2 separate regions of the Homo sapiens genome follow, and region 2 is linked to region 1. The links come from fine-mapping of genetic effects on gene expression. Tissue or cell type: whole blood. Region 1 holds a variant in brackets; the other region holds the start of a gene. All regions are shown on one strand. Distances are between the middles of the regions.

The links. PIP is the estimated chance that this variant, and not a neighbour inherited with it, causes the effect.
Region 2: SDSL starts here. The variant in region 1 is fine-mapped to the expression of SDSL in whole blood (TOPMed, PIP 0.96).

What each region holds. Positions count from the first base shown.
Region 1 is chr12:113,389,120-113,391,879 of GRCh38, reverse strand. PLBD2 (phospholipase B domain containing 2) reads right to left here. Exons shown (of 12, transcript NM_173542.4): 12 at 251-2,760. Among named protein-coding and RNA genes, the nearest start is that of SDS, 13 kb to the left of the region's middle. The variant T/C (reference allele first, on the strand shown) is at 1,444.
Region 2 is chr12:113,421,092-113,423,721 of GRCh38, reverse strand. It overlaps SDSL (serine dehydratase like), which reads right to left and starts at 1,342. Exons shown (of 8, transcript NM_001304993.2): 1 at 1,245-1,342.

The DNA of each region.
Region 1 (2,760 bases):
AAGAGTCACTCAGGGCTGGGCGCAGTGGCTCACGCCTGTGGGAGGATCGCTTGAGCCCAGGAGTTCAAGACCAGGCTGGTTGGCACAGTGAGACTCTGTCTCTACAAAAAGGAAAAATAACTTGAACCCAGGAGGCAGAGGTTGCAGTGAGCCGGGATTGTGCCATTACACTCCAGTCTGGCGACAGAGTGAGACTCCGTCTCAAAAAATAAATAAATAAATAAAAAGGAAAATAAGATAAAACCACAAGTCAATTCCCAACCCCAGACCCCAACCTTGCTTTATTTTCTCCACGGGTTTACCAGCACTGACACACTGCATATTTCATTTATTTTGTTTACTATCTAGTCAATGTAAACTTCACAAGAGCAGGAATGCTTCTGTCCCTTTTGTTATAAAGTATCCCCGGGACCTCATAACAGTGCCTGGCATGTACTAGGGGTTCAATAAGTGTTTGCTAATAAAGAGATGCTGAGTGCATGAGGCCCCAAGTGGGCTGCATCACATCCCCCAGGGAAACGCTGCTCACACCATTACCCCATTTCACAGATGAGGTAATCGAGGCTCAGAGAGGAGTCCATAGCTAGCTAATAAGAGGTGGAGACAGAATTGAAACCCAGGTCTCTGACTCCAGGGCTGTGTGCTTTCCTCTCTCCAAGCACACAGCACTGGGAGAGTCTTGTCTCCAAGGCAGGCTGCATGAGATCAGACAGGGAGAGAGCCTTTTTTTTTGTATCTGTCTGTATACCACAATATGGCTTAGGAAGGTCTTGGTGGTTAACAAGGCTCCCAAATAGGACCCAGAACACAGGTGCTCAATAAACATCTGGATGGATAGATGGATGGATGGATATGAATGAATGGATGGCTGATGGATAGAAAATAGATAAATATGGATGCATGGGTGGATATTAATGAATCTGCACAGACCCGTGTGTGGATGGATGGGTGATAAATGAATAGGTAGGTGGATGGACGGGTGGGTGGGTGGATGGATGAATGGATGGATGAGTGGGTGGATGGATGGGTAGATGGGTGATAAATGGATAGGTGGACGGATGAGTGAATGGGTAGATGGGTAGATGGATGGAAATGAACAGATGGAAATGGTTGGATGGGTGGATAAATGGTTGGAAGGATGGATGGATGGGTGAGTGGGTAGATGGATGATAAATGGATAGGTAGGTGGATGGATGAGTGAATTAGTAGATGGGTAAATGGGTGGAAAATGAACAGATGGAAATAGTTGGATGGGTGGATAAATGGTTGGAAGGTTGGATGGATGGGTGAGTGGGTAGATGGATGATAAATGGATAGGAAGGTGGATGGATGAGTGAATGGGTGGATGGGTAGATGGATGGAAAAACAGATGGAAATGTTTGGATGGGTGGATAAATGGTTGGAAGGATGGATGGATGGATGGGTAAATGGGTGATAAATGGA[T/C]AGGTAGGTGGATGGAGGAGTGAATGGGTGGACGGGTAGATGGATGGAAAATGAACAGATGAAAATGGTTGGATTGATGGTTGGATGGGTGATTGGATGGATGGATGGGTGGATGGGTGACAAATAGGTAGGTGGATGGGTGGATAGGTGAGTGGGTAGATGATTGGGTGGGTGGATGGATGGATGCGTTGGCAGATGGGTGGATGGATGAATGGATAGGTAGTTGGATGGGTGGGTGGATGAATGGGTGGGTAGATAAATGGGTGGGTGGATGGGTGATAGATAGATAAGAACTTCGTAAGCCATGCTGTGGTATACAGACCAATACAAAAAAGGATCCCTCCCTGTCTGATCTCATAGGTGGATGGATGAGTCAATGGCTGGATGAGTAAATGGGTGGGTGGGTAAGTGGATGGAAAATGGACAAATGAGGCCAGGTGCGGGGGCTCACATCTGTAATCCAAGCACTTTGGGAGGCCAAGACGGGCGGATCACTTGAGGCCAGGAGTTCGAGACCAGCCTGGCCAACATGGTGAAACCCTGTCTCTACTAAAAATACAAAATTAGCCAGGCATGGTGGCTCATGCCTGTAACCCCAGCTACTTGGGAAGCTAAGGCAGGAGAATCGCTTGAACCCAGGAAGCAGAGGTTGCAGTGAGCAGAGATTATGCCATTGCACTCCAGCCTGGGCAATAGAGTGAAACTCCCACTCAGAAAAAACAAAAACAAAAAAAAAAGAAGAAGAAAGAAAATGGACAGATGGAGATGGCTGAATGGTTGGATGGGTGGTTGGATGGGTGAGTGGATGGATGATAAATGGATAGGTAGATGGATGGATGGATGATGGAAGACGGATGGGTGGGTGGAAGGCTGTGCAGATGGATGATGGGTGAGTATGTTGGCAGATGAATGAATGGACAGAAGGACAGACAGAGGGCTGCACAGGAGGCTGCATGGGGGATGGCGCAGAACCCAAACCTGAGAGGAGAAAAAGCGCTGACCCCACCTTCCCTGCCACCCCAAGAAGCACAGCATGGGGCCACAGCCGCTCTTGTTTAATGGTGGCACAGCCTGCGGTCTGGTTCCTCCATCAGGGCGCTGTGGGTATGGCCCTGAGGTGAGGGGCAGGCCTGGGGTGGGGTGGGGTGGGGCCTGAGGCAGAAGCATGGGGGCTGACCCTCTGCCTGACATGGAGAGAGGACATTCAGAACCCTCCAGCCACAGATGGCCAGAAACTTTGGTTTGTGTTTGTTTTCAAGTTTCTGTCCTCAAGGAAGCTGCCCAGAAAGGGAGACGAGGGGACTGCTTCCTGAGGGA
Region 2 (2,630 bases), 32 kb before region 1:
TGCCTGGGCTGGAGTGCAGTGGCACGATCATGGCTCACTGTAACCTTGAAGTCCCGGGCTCAAGCAATCCTCCCACCTCAGCTTCCTGAGTAGCTGGAACTGTAGACATGCACCACTGTATCCGGCTGATATTTTAATTTTTATAGAGATGCAGTTTTGCTGAGTTGTCCAGGCTGGTCTTGAACTCCTGGCCTCAGGTAAATCTCTTGTCTCTGCCTCTCAAAACACTAGGATAACAGGTGTGAGCCACCTGTTGGCTCACAACAGATGAGTCATTAACTCACCATTGACTCCATTTTATAAACAGTGAACCTGAGGTCCAGAGAGATTAAGTAACTTATCCAAGTTCACACAGTTAGAAACAGCATAGCCAGAATTCACACCAGGCAGTGTCTTTGGCATCTGTGCTATTAACCGCGATGCTATACTTTCTCTAATATACTAGTGTTATCGTTACTATTATGAAAGCTGCATGCATTTAATATTTATTGCCAATTGTCCTTTGGAACCAAATGCTCCTGGCTCAGTTTCCAGGCTTCCCCAGCCCTCTTGGTTATACTGACTCACAAGAGGACAGCAGGCATCAGTTAAATGAAAAAGCCCCAAGTTGCCAACAGCCTTATCAACCCCAGACCCCATCAGGCACCTGAGGTCTGGGACTGAGCTGTCTTGGCCCAGGGACACACACCTCTTGTCCCGTATGGCAGCCACCAGGGCTGAAATGGGGGACCTGGGTCTCCCTGCTGTGGAATAACCCAGGGGAAAGCAGGGGGCTCAGGCTCAGGTCCCAGTCATGCCAACCTTGGCCAAGTCACTTTTGTCACTGGGCCTTACCTGTCACATCTATGAGTTGAGGTAAGGACCACCAGTGCTGTCCACCTCACTTGTCCCCAAAGCCTTTCCCCAGAGGCCACCTTGGTGGCACTCCACAGCCAAATCCCTGGTGCCAGGGCTGGGACACCTCGGGCTGGCCCCTTGGCTGGCAGAATGCCCAACCCTGCCCCTCTGGCAGGCAGAACCCACTCTCGCCCTTCAGGGTCCCCAGCACAACACTTTCTTCTGCAGGGCACCCTGAATTCAATCGACATTCCCAGGAGGGCCTAGAACACGCTCAGGCCCTCTCACTCCCACCTGCTCAGCTTGGACTTTGCCCAAAGCCTCCCAAACTCCTGCAGCCTCTCATCAGCCTCTCATTCACACACACACTGAGCCCCAGGGGCCCCAGCTGGCCCCAGACCCCTTACCTCCCTGCCCAACTATCCCAGACCAGCGTGGCCCCAGCTCCTGCCCTCCAGCCTGCCAGGGAACCAGCTCTTTCCAGGAACCGGCTCTGTCCAGCTTCAGGCAGCTTCCGGCAACCTTGGTCCCTCCTCCTTTGTTAAAGAGAAAGCTCCAGACCCTAAGCCTCCGGGTGAAGACGGAGGAGGAGAGGGGATGAGAGCAACCCTCACCGCTTTCCCGGGCACTGCCTATGACTCATGCACCACCCTGTCTCATTTGACAGATGAGCAAACTGAAACTCAGAAAAGGGAACTTATTTGGCCAAAGCTTCCCAGACAGCAAGGGGCAGAGACAGCCTTTACCCCTGGCCCTGGGCCATCTCTTCCGGGATGCAGGCATCTCCATGTCTTCTCATTTTAGGTCTAGTGATTGTCCCGGATGCTGAACCACTGTTGGGGTCAGCTTAGGTCTGGGATGGGAAAACAAGGACAAGGGAACTTTTTTTTTTTGAGACACAGTTTCATTCTTGTCCCCCAGGCTGGAGTGCAATGGTGCGATCTCGGCTCACTGTTACCTCCGCCTCCTGGATTCAAGCGATTCTCCCACTTCAGCCTCCCAAGTAGCCAGGTTTACAGGCACCCACCACCACGCCAGCTAATTTTTGTATTTTTAGTAGGGACAGGGTTTGACCATGTTGGCCAGGCCAGTCTCGAACTCCTGTCCTCAGGTGATCTGCTTGCCTCTGCCTCCCAAAGTGCTGGGATTACAGGCGTGAGCCACTGCACCTGGCCAAGGAAACAATTATTATAATTATTATTTGTGACATGGGAAAGGTATATTTTTGTCTGAAGCACCTCTCCGTCTCGGATATTTTACACGCAGCATGAGAACCCAAGCAATTATTTGCTACTCAGATGAATGACTGACCATTCATTCATTCATTAAATGTTTATTGGACACCTACTATGTGCCAATCCCTGGAACTTTGGCCTCAAACAAAATAGCATGTCCTCTGCCTTCACAAAGCCCTTAGAGAGGGCCATTAGAGAGCACTTATTAGTGCTATCAGATGTTAGCAGCTGGCAGGGTGGGGCAGGGCTGTGGAACCCAGAGCAGGCACCCCGCCTGGCCCTGGGGGGCTGGGGAGGCTTCCTGGAGGAGGGGAAGTCTGAGTGGAGCCAGGAGTCAGGCACAGGGAGTGCAAAGGTCTGGAAATGAAAAACATGATATATTCCAGGGTCAGGGTAGTATCCAGTGGGGCTGGGAGGGAGAAGGCAGGGGTGGGGAAGCAAGTGGGGTTGAGGCTGGAGATGTGGGCAGAGATCAGAGTCCACAGGGATGCCTGTACCAATCCAGAGTTTGGACCTTACCCAGGGGCACTAGGGAGCCACAGAAGGCTTTAGGTGGGG